Homo sapiens: one gene and its partners. The protein of the gene in region 2 purifies or fractionates together with the protein of the main gene of each other region. This does not show direct contact. Each region holds a gene or a part of one and is shown on either strand. Other genes may lie near its edges. The genes, in order: IL37, GSG1 and ASAH1.

Region 1 (3,751 bases), on a different chromosome or scaffold from region 2:
ATTAGGAGATAACTCTGGGAAAGATGAGCCCGGGGAGGGGCAGGTGATGCTCACCTGCTAAGAGGCACAGGGCAAGGAAGAGTTTGTGCCTGGGAACCTTCCAGGTGCCTCTTCTGACCATAGCCAAGAGACTGGAGACACAGACCTCCTCCCAGCACTGAGGACAAACAGCCATGGGGCCAGTGGGGGTGCAGGGACACCCACACCACTAAGGGCTCAGGGCGGCGCCTTCAGAGCCTGAACCTTCCTCTCATGCTGCCATTTGAACACCACAACACCCTAATAGGAAACTGTTAACATTGCCACTGTTCAGGTGTGGAAACCGAGACAGACAGTGGAGATTCCCTGCCCTAGGTGACACAGGTAATAAGTGACAGATGTGGAAATTTAAAGGTACTATAACGTCTGTCTGCCTGACTCAGGCTTAAGGCTCCCATCACCTCCTCTTCTCAGGACAGAGTCAGGAGGCCTCAGCCTGAGCCCCAGCTCTAGTGCAGGTTCATGTGGGAATACTGAGCCTCACTAGTACAATGGCAGAGAGGACCAAATGGGACCAGGTGTGTAAGGGTGCCTGGCACAGTTGGGGGAGGCTGCTGTCACTTCTCCACCGCTGCTGCTGCAGTTACCTTTGATGTTTTAGTTTTGTTGTAGTTACACCATTGCTGGCTTTGGATCTGCACTGTGTCCACTCCAGGTGGAACCACGCACACAAGCCTCTCTGTCGGGCCTGTCCTGACTTCTCCTTGTCAGGGCTGGGATCTCCTTCAAATCTGGCGGAAGTGGTTCTCCAAGTCTGGTCCTCAAACGTCAGCAGCATCAGCGCCTAGAAGTGTTAGGAATACACATTCCCAGGCCCCACCACAGACCTCCTGCCTCAGAAACTCAGGGCGCTGAGGCTCTAGGGGCTGCTTTAACAAGACTTCCAGGTTATCGTGACGCACCTTGAAAGTCTGAGAGCTACTGCCCTACAGAAAGTTACTAGTGCCCTAAAGCTGGCGCTGGCACTGATGTTACTGCTGCTGTTGGAGTACAACTTCCCTATAGAAAACAACTGCCAGCACCTTAAGACCACTCACACCTTCAGAGTGGCCTTGAGAAAGATTTGGGGTCAAGGATCATGAGCGAGAACACCACTTAAGAGGATAGTGAACTAGTCTGCATGTGAGACGCTGAGATCCTATGTCAGGCTGTGATAGGAGGGAAACAGAAACCAAAGGAAAGAACAGCTTTAAGAAGCGCTTAAGAGGTACAAAGTAAAATGATGGTGCTAGAAAAGTAGCTTCTTAAAAAGAGCATTTTCCAGTCTCACCCTGGACTAACTGAATGAGAATCTCAGGAGTGTGAGGCCCAGGTATCCATGGTCTTAAAATGCCACCCACCAGGTGATTCCCAGTGTGCACCAGGGGTGAGAGTCACAGCCTTAGGCCATGCCACTCAAAGGGTGTCTTCAGACCAGCAGCACCCACAGCTCTGGGAGTGCATCAGAAAGACAGAGGCTTGGCACCACCCACACCTACTGAACCATAGTTTGCAGGTGATTTCTTGCACATTAAAGTGTGGGAAATGGAAAAGCTTAGAGTTCAGCTAGCTCGGTGACTCTCAGTCAACCTGCACCTGCTCCATGAACTCAGACTGCCTGGGATGGGCCCAGAAAAGCTCCTGAGGAGATTCTGATGTAAGGCAGGGCTGATAACCATGGATCTCATCTGACCCCATATCACTGGGGAGTTACTTAGGATCTTGCCTGGGGCCAGTCATCTCTTCCATAGACACTGAGAGTGTCCACGATGCTTGGGGCACTACAGGGTGGGAGGTGGAGGATCACGGGTGAGTCAGATAGGAAGCCTGCTCCTGGGGAGCTTACAGTGCTATAGGGCAGCGAGCCAAGGATGCCAATACCTGTGTGCAGGTACCACTGACGAGTGCAGAGCGCTGCAGCACCAGAGAGGAAGCTACCCTGTGCAGAGGGGGCTGAGGAGGGCTGCAGGGAGATGACAGGAAAGCCGGTGTTACAGGAGGAGTCCTCCCCACTCTTTGGGCATGAGGAGACCAGGAGGACATTCTACAGTGAGAAACCCAGGCAGAGGCCATGTGCTTATGGCATGGGAAAAGAATGACACCTTAGACTTATTCTCTACATTAGAATTGCCTACCACAGATACCCATATTATAGCTTCACATAGTGTGGTGGTTACTGTGTTTTCATATTGTCACATTTGCCATTTTCCAGCCACCCACCCATTCTTGACAGTCACTGGCCCAGCCTGGGGGCCCCTGTTCTTTATCAAACAAGTGCCTGAGCTCTTTGCAGAGGTGAGGGTCACCTGTCCAATCAGAGGCCAGGAGGGAACGTTCCCTTTTAAGACCCTACTCTAGGCAGGCCTGGCCCAAATGAGTTGCTAGGAGCCCACGCCCTAAGAACCCTCTGAGCACTGTTGTGGCTGGTCCTGCTGCTAGAAGTTGTTCCTCCAGGGCCAGGTGCAAGATTTGTGGCTTTTCAAAGGAGCCACTAAAGCTCCAGCTCAGCCTTGCACCGTGCTGGGCTCCTGGGGGCTTCCTGCCTCCAACCCTCCCAACTCTTCCATCACCGCTCCCTTAGCCTGGCCAGTGCAGGGATCTGTTCCACTCTAGGCACTGCTGAGGGAATGATGCCTCCAGTCAGAGGGTGCAAAAAAGAGAGTTAAGAAAAACAATGATTATAAAAAGTCCTTTTTATACGCCAGACATTTTCTTTGCTCAGGCTAAGTGCTACTTATTTGAGTAAGCATTTTAGTTCTCATAACTCCTCTCTCAAGTAGGTGCTGCTATTACTTTCATTTCACAGATGAGGACATTGAGGTTTGGAGAGACTTAGTAACTTGTCCTCTGTCCTACAGCAGAGCTGGGATTTGAATCTATCTGTCCAAATCTGGAACCCATTTGCTTGCACAGAAAGCTTAATTGCTTGTCCCAGCAAGATAGAAAGCCTGGGAGTGGAAGAAATATTCAGTGGCTGTGATGTCTGAGCCCACAGGCAGGGTGGAGAGCTAGGGCTGGGGCCCTTGGACGTGGGGAAGAAAGGGCTGAGTCTTCCATTTTCAATGTGAAGTGTTGATATCTGGTGATATTGATCTAGGTCCAAAGGTGAAGAACTTAAACCCGAAGAAATTCAGCATTCATGACCAGGATCACAAAGTACTGGTCCTGGACTCTGGGAATCTCATAGCAGTTCCAGATAAAAACTACATACGCCCAGGTGACTCTCAGTTTTGGCTGTGTTTTCTGCCTCCACCTAGCAGGGGTAAGGCCTCCTGCTAGGTGGGCTCAACTCCATGCTATACCATGCCCCATCTCCAGCAGGTGGTGGAAGCGAGGAGGAGAGGCCCCAGGGACTAGGGCATCAGATGAAGGGTCTCTAGCAATGACCAGATCTGAAAGTAGTCTTTCTGGAAGGGCTGGAGAAAAAGAAGGAGGCAGACACTTAGACTGGAAGAAGAGGAGGCTTAAACCAGTGTGATGGAGGGAGAAGTGGACCACAGAGTCAAGGGAGAGGGACTGTGCATCAGGCCTGAAACCCCAGCAGACAGGAGAGACCTTTCCCTGCTCTCAGAACCCACACATGTTCTGACTGTCTTTTTCCAGAGATCTTCTTTGCATTAGCCTCATCCTTGAGCTCAGCCTCTGCGGAGAAAGGAAGTCCGATTCTCCTGGGGGTCTCTAAAGGGGAGTTTTGTCTCTACTGTGACAAGGATAAAGGACAAAGTCATCCATC
Region 2 (3,751 bases):
CCATCTGGGGCCTCAGTTCTTTCGGCAGCCTCCCCTATGTCCCCACTGTGAGGCAGGCACTTCTGCACCAGGCTGGAAGACACGGCCCTCCAGGTTCCTCTCCACTGACCAAGGGCTTGGCTGCCGACACCCTACCCATGGCTCTGTGGACACCAAACCTGGTGTCCAGCCTACACAGGCACCACACAGCCACCTCGCATTTGAAACTCTATTGTCTCTGTGGCAGTGGATGGAAGCTGGGCCCGACTGCTACCTCTCCCAGAACCATAAGCCCCATCTCCTTTCCAAAGGTTTCAATAGCCCCACATCCCAGTAGGTTCACTGCCCTCTTTTATCCTCCAGGCCCCAAAGCATCCATCTGCTTCCCCCGGAGATTTCCAGTTTAATATTCATTGCTATGACTCCTTTCAGAGGAATCTGTAATGCAGGGAAAAGGACACCAATAGCTCACTTTGTTACAATAGCAAATGCTTCAGCAAGTCAGTGCTACTACCTGTCAGTGAAGACAAAGCCAAAAACGATTATCACAAAGAGCATTTGGAATGCTCCCAATTCTTTTTTCTAAACTTTTATATAAAGTTTAGACTTTACATAAAACTTTTCCAGAAGTTATCAATTGCCTTGTCAATTATTAATTATATAATTATATATTTATATGTATTAATGTTATTTTACATAAAGTTAAAAGCTTATATAACCGGCCAGGCGTGGTGGCTTAACGCCTGTAATCCCAGCACTTTGGGAGGCCGAGGCGGGCAGATTACCTAAGATCAGGAGTTTAAGACCAGCCTGGCCAATATGGTGAAACCCCGTCTCTACTAAAAATACAAAAAAAAATTAGCCAGGCATGGTGGCAGGCGCCTGTAATCCCAGCTACTCGGGAGGCTGAGGCAGGAGAATCTCTTGAACCCGGGAACTGGAGGTTGCAGTGAGCCGAGATTGTGCCATTGCACTCCAGCCTGGGCAACAAGAGTGACACTCCGTCTCAATAAAAAAAAAAAAAAAAGAAAAAGTTTATATATCCTCTGACTGAGGTTATTGCTATCTGATGCTTATTCAGAACACCCTCAATTTACTCAGCAGTTTAGTGTTGAGTGTCTAATGTGTAAAATACTGTGCTAGTTGCTGTGGGAAAGATAAAAATTACAAAGACACGTTTTTGCTACCTAATGGCAGCTTGAAATCTTGGAGGGAAGATAAGACATGACCAAAAATAAATGTGAAAAGAGTACTATTAAGAAGGCACACACCACAGTCCTTGAAGCCCTTCCAAGCCTCACTTCCCATGGAAGGTGCTGGTTAGGGGACCTCCCTGAAGCAGTTGGGACTTGGGGTGAGCCTCAGAAGGGGCAGGACTTCAGTAGACAGGGCCTGGCCAGCAGTGGTATCAAATGTGCAGCAATCCACCTTCTCTCTCTCTCGCTCAATCTGCTGGTCCAAGAACTCCAGGTAGTGGCTGCTGGCAGATCCATCACTGCTACTCAGAAAGATCCCCCTGCTGTTTGTTGGTGGGGTCATTATGGCACTCACCATAAAGGTACACACACACACATACATCCTCCCTAGGATTTGCCGGCTGGAGGCTATGTTGATTCCACTCTCACCATTTGAGGCAGAAATGGAAGATTTTAACATACTCACTTCCAATTCACTCTGACTTCTGCATTCCTCATTCTAATTTGTCCTCTCTGGTGGATCACCTTTATCCTACTTCTGTGTATTGCTGCATATCATGCCCAGAGGCCAGCCCCTGTCATTCAATCTATGCAAATCACCACTTTTCTGTAGTTGGATCTGTGTAAGGTTCAACTTAAAGATGCATCATCCCCGTGTTGTGTAAAAGCCAGGGGAAAACTTTCCCTTTGCCCTCCGAAGGTTCACTGAAAACCACTGATAAGAGGCAGATTAATAGGAGAAAAAACATTCAAGTTTATTTGATCGTAGTTTCACGTGACGTGGGAACCTTCAGAATGAAGTCACAAAGATGAAGGGAAAATTGTCTATTTTTATGCTTAGGTTCAACAAAGTATGGACAGTCACATAGAAATATGATTGGACATCAAGGCCATGATCTATTGTTGTTATTTATTTTTTAGAGACAGATAGCCCTGTTGCCCAGACTGGAGTGCAGTGGCATGATCGTGGCTCACTGCAGCCTCAACCTCCTGGGCTCAGGTGATCCTCCCACCTCAGCCTCAAAAGTAGCTGGGACTACAGGCGTGCGCCACCGTGCCCGGCTAATTTTTTTATTTTCCGTAGAGACAGGGTCTCACTATGTTACCCAGGCTGGTCATGAATTCCTGAACTCAAGCGATCCTCCCACCTCTGGAAGGGATTACGGTGCTAGGATTACAGGCATGAGCCACTGCATCTGGCCTGATCTAATAATGTTAATAGATTGAGTGGGGAAACCCAGCAAGGGCTGCTTCTCCTTGGCCTCTCTGAGCGTGCATTTCTTCCTTCTGGGTGTGGGGCAGGACCCTCTCTGGAATGGGAGTCTTATGACCTACAGTCACACAAGCTAGGTCAGATAACCTCTTTAGGGCCAGTTTGGACACGGGAAGGCAGAGGGAAAGTTAGAGTAATATTTTTAGGTTTTATGGCTGGCTCTGGGGAAAGGGACTCTGGTTTCTACAACCCACCTTGAGAAAGAGGGATTCTAGTTTCTGTGGCTAGCCTTGGGAAAGAGTGGGACTGAGACAGGAGGACAGGAGAATGTCAGAGAGAGCTGCTTCTGAGGCCCCCATTTGGGCGTATGGTTTTCTTACGCCCTCAGGGTGCTTGCTGCAGACCACTCCTGAAGCGGGGCTTCCATGCGGCCCCTGGAGAAAAATGTCAGAGGCGGGTTGTGCCTATCTGCCTTGGAGGAGTATGGCTTGAGCGGAGGGAGTGCAGGGAAGGATGGCCACATCTCCGAGGCGGCTCTGAGTCAAGCTCCCCTGCTCCCTTCCCTTCCACTTGTGCTTGTCTATTACAGATGGAGCTCTCGAAGGCCTTCTCTGGCCAGCGGACACTCCTATCTGCCATCCTCAGCATGCTATCACTCAGCTTCTCCACAACATCCCTGCTCAGCAACTACTGGTTTGTGGGCACACAGAAGGTGCCCAAGCCCCTGTGCGAGAAAGGTCTGGCAGCCAAGTGCTTTGACATGCCAGTGTCCCTGGATGGAGATACCAACACATCCACCCAGGAGGTGGTACAATACAACTGGGAGACTGGGGATGACCGGTTCTCCTTCCGGAGCTTCCGGAGTGGCATGTGGCTATCCTGTGAGGAAACTGTGGAAGAACCAGGTAGCCTACATTCTGGGATATAAGAGCAACGGGGTCAGGGCGGGCAAGGGATCTAATGCAGGCATGGAAATCAGGTAGGCCCGCTTAGGGCTGGCGTTGCCCTGGAAGTGCAGCACTGCCCACACCCCAGTGGGCCTCACTCCCTTCTCCCAGCACAGAACCTTCCACCTCCGTCCAGTGTCCTTCTCTATAGGAGCCCCTTTTAATAAGGTTGAAAGTCCTCTGGATTTTCACTTCCTCCCTCTGTAGTAGACTTGTTGGTTCAAAATAGCATGTTAAAAATAGAATTAACCTTAAAAGTTTCATTTAGACCTTTCACATTATGAGAATTTCTGGTCTAGGGAGCTAGAATTGCTGTTTAGAAACAAAACGAAGGGAGAGGAATATTGTAGGAAAGCCCTAGCTCTGCTCAACTGTGACCTCATACAAGTAACTTCATTTCTTTTTTCTTTTGATAT
Region 3 (3,751 bases), on a different chromosome or scaffold from region 2:
GCACATTGCTGAAGTGCTTCGCTGGGCGAATGGTGGCATCCGTTCCAGGAAACATGGGGAGGGGAAAGCTTGGGGGCTAAAGAATGAGGATCGTTTTCATTTGGGGTGTATGTTAAATTTCAGGTGGCAGAGAGGCATCCAGCAGGCCACTCGGACTGGCACTCAGAAGAGAGACACTGAGAGTCACTGGCATAATGATATTATATTTGAAGCCCTTGGAGCAGATGAACTTACCTAGAAATAGGATAGAGAAAGAGAAGAAAAGAGAACTAGGCAAAGGCTAAGTAACTTGCACATGTATGTGTCAAGAAGAGGAGAAATTGCCAAAGTTAAAACAGGACAGGCCGGGCGCGGTGGCTCATGCCTGTAATCCCAGCACTTTGGGAGGCCAAGGTGGGCAGATCACGTGAGGTCAGGAGTTTGAGACTAGCCTGGCCAACATGGAGAAACCCTGTCTCTACTAAAAATACAAAAATTAGCTGGGCATAGTGGCTCACGCCTGTAGTCCCAGCTACTCAGGAGGCTGAGGCGGGAGAATTGCTTGAACCTGGGAGGGAGAGGTTGCAGTGAGCCAAGATCCTGCCATTGCACTCCAGCCTGGACAATGAGCGAAACTTCGTCACAGAAAACAAAAACAAAAAAATAGGAGAGTAAGTGGAACAGGAAGCTCAGGGAAGAGACTGGGACAGGTTAACTATGTTGAATATTATTGAGATGTCAGTGGTATTATGATGTTGGGCAACTGGAGGTCATTGGTCACCTCGACTGGAGCAGTGTTGGGGGCAGAAAACAGCTTGCGGTAGGCTAAGTGTGATTGGCAGGAAAGGAACTAGAGGGGAGAGATGGCTGCTCTGCGTAATAAATCTGACCCACTTCATAAGATGTGCGAAGATGAAACGTAATGGCTTAGTAATTAATTGCCAAAGTAAACTTGTAAACTCATTTTTATGCATCAGCTTCTCATACTAGTTAACAGCGTATGTCAACATTGTTGACATTAGCTATTGAATCAGCTTTAGCAATGATTTTCACGCAGTTGCCAGAAATCTCATAGACCCCATCTGGCCTAGGAATTTATTGCACTTCATCTGCTTTTCCCTACTTCTCCCAAAGAGGGAACACACAGGTGTAATCCATTCACTTATTCAACAAATACTGCTTGCCTACTATGTGCCAGACTCCTAAACGCTGGGAATGCGTCAGCCAATGAGATAGATGAGGTCCTTCCTCTCATGGAGGGTTTATTCACATTCCTTTGACCTAAATATCAGTAGCTTAATAGGATGCCATCCCATCAAAGCCCAGAAGACAAGTGAAAACATTTTCAAGCTCATGTGAATTCTTGTACACGTAGGAAACATGCCTCTTTGTATTCAGTGTTTCTGCTGAGTTGTACATAAGAGGACATTATAGGAAAAACTTGTCTGCAAAATAGTTGTTGATGAATTCAAGAATTGAATGAATGAAAAATTGTCTGGCTAGAGTTGTTTGGCTTCTGGTGGGTATGAAAACTGACATGAGGTATGTAATTTTAGATTATCCTTCATTGTCTCTTTCTGAGTATTTCAATAAGACAAGCACACAAGGGCTTTCTGGACTTTTAAAATTCACTATTAGAAGCATACATTATTTCATTGAGGGTCTCCTAATTCTTTCGGGCTCAAATATTTTAAGGAGCTGTACAAGTTATGCCATTTTTTAAGGGTATGGCGCTTTCATTGAGACCTTAATGTTCTCTTTATATTTTTGTGTTTTTTTTAGAATGTTGTGTTCAGTAGCTCTGTAATTAATTTCTCTTAATGAATGGGGAGGACATTCAAAGAGGCTTAAGTTTCTATCAAATAACCAGAAAAATTAGAGAATTTTCTGACCCAAACAGTCTTTTAAAAGCACTTTCCAGAGAGTTTTTTGTTTTTTTTTTTTTTCTGAGATGGAGTCTTGCTCTGTCTCCCAGGCTGGAGTGCAGTCACACTATCTCGTCTCACTGCAACTTCCACCTCCCGGCTTCAGGCAATTCTCCTACCTCAGCCTTCCGAGTACCTAGGATTACAGGCACATGCCACCCAGCTAATTTTTGCATTGTTAGTAGTAACGGGGATTTCGCCATGTTGGCCAGGCTGGTCTTGAAGTCCTGACCTCAGGTGATCCACCCACCTCAGCCTCCCAAGGTGCTGGAATTACAGGCATGAGCCACCATGCCTGGCCCAGAGAGTTTCAAATGCATTGAAATATCAGATTTTTACCACTTATCTTCACTCTTAGGAGACCACTGAGGGGCAGGGAGAAAGGTAGGGAAGGGCAGGGAGAGAGAGAGAAAGAGAGGTACTGTGGGGAGAGGGTTAGAGAGAATTGATTCTAAGTTGGATTTTGTTTCCTGTGATAGGGTGTACATAGTATACCATCCAGACCACATAATCTCTCTTCTTATCATCTGTTTCTAATCTTTACCTATCATCTATTTAAGTTTTTACCTGCCTTAATAGAGTTGTCTGTTATTAAACTGTTTATAAACTTGGGGATAGTAAGGAACTTTAAATAACATTAAGTAAGTTCATTATAATTCTGTTTTAGGGCTACTCGTGGGTTTTGAAGCTGTGTCTCCCTGTAGAATTCTTTTTTGAGGGGGAGGAAGTAGCTCTTTTTTCCACCCTACCCCTAAAACTAACCTTTTTGCATAAACGACTTAGGCGTTCATGCCATGTGAGCCCCTGAAATACTGTAGTCTCATAGCTGCCAACTTTCTTATTTTCTGTCACACTTATCCTATTTCCTTGCAGCCAGGTTCTATGCCAATTTCACGTTTGTTTATTGCTACCAAGAGTCGTTATCAACCTCAGACTCACTCCACATGTATTGTTGCTAGCTTGCTCTTTAGTTCTTACCTCTGGGGCAGGTCACATTCTCTCCTAATACTAGACAGAGCATTTTCAACTTTGCTCACAGTTGTCTAGTAAGAAATGTGCCTGTAATTTGATGTTTATTTTGGCTTTGGAACCCAGGGCGTGCAAATGTCATTATTAGGAAGGGATAGGAGTCATTACGTTTCACTTAATTTGCCGAGTTGATTCTAGTGATCACCAGAAGCCCTGAACTACGCGCAGATTATTCTGTTAGGAATTAAATTGAGGCATTGGTTTTATTATCTCTGTGGGAAGCTGTTTGATAGAACAGGGAAAGCCATTGACTCTGATTCTGTCACCAGCTGTGTAACTTTCTACAAGTCACTAATGGAGCAGGGTCTTAAGTCCACAACATGATCATAAAATTAAGCACTTGGGTTAAGTACCCATCACAGTATTCCCAACTCATAGGAAAACAATGGTCAGATAAACAAGAAAATGTAAAGCGGAGTATCTCCTCACAGCAGAACTTATTTACAAATTTTACAAAGTAAAATTAAGTTGCAACCCCTATAAGTCTCTAAGTAGCTCATTTATTAGCAAAATAAGGAAAGCCATTTACCAATGGTGGATTACCTAAATTGTATTCGATTGTAGTAGCAGAAGTATTGTGTCCAGGGAAAATGAAATTATTTTACATGTCATTGAGAACCCTTGTCCTGGACTTTGGGAAGAACATCAATATCAATTAAAGAACAAAGCATGTGATTTTTGAGTGATTTTTCTTGACTGTCAACATACCGATAACTGATCAGTTGTTGATATTTATTAGATGATCATTGCCAAGTTTGAAGTGACTGAAGAGTTAGCCTCTGAATCATCTGTATAAAACAACTACAGGCGAGGATGTT

The links.
Region 1: the proteins of GSG1 (region 2) and IL37 purify together in Homo sapiens (affinity purification with mass spectrometry; 3 studies listed by BioGRID and IntAct, with this or other methods). This does not show direct contact.
Region 3: the proteins of GSG1 (region 2) and ASAH1 purify together in Homo sapiens (affinity purification with mass spectrometry; 2 studies listed by BioGRID and IntAct, with this or other methods). This does not show direct contact.

The regions. Positions count from the first base shown.
Region 1 is NC_000002.12:112,914,014-112,917,764, forward strand, and holds part of IL37 (interleukin-37), read left to right. Parts: intron 1-1,179; coding exon of another isoform or gene 1,180-1,246; intron 1,247-3,115; coding exon 3,116-3,235; intron 3,236-3,621; coding exon 3,622-3,751. UniProt on the Homo sapiens protein: Immune regulatory cytokine that acts as a suppressor of innate inflammatory and immune responses involved in curbing excessive inflammation.
Region 2 is NC_000012.12:13,090,045-13,093,795, reverse strand, and holds part of GSG1 (germ cell-specific gene 1 protein), read left to right. Parts: intron 1-2,977; coding exon 2,978-3,293; intron 3,294-3,751. UniProt on the Homo sapiens protein: May cause the redistribution of PAPOLB from the cytosol to the endoplasmic reticulum.
Region 3 is NC_000008.11:18,077,449-18,081,199, reverse strand, and holds part of ASAH1 (acid ceramidase isoform a preproprotein), read left to right. Parts: intron 1-3,751. UniProt on the Homo sapiens protein: Lysosomal ceramidase that hydrolyzes sphingolipid ceramides into sphingosine and free fatty acids at acidic pH.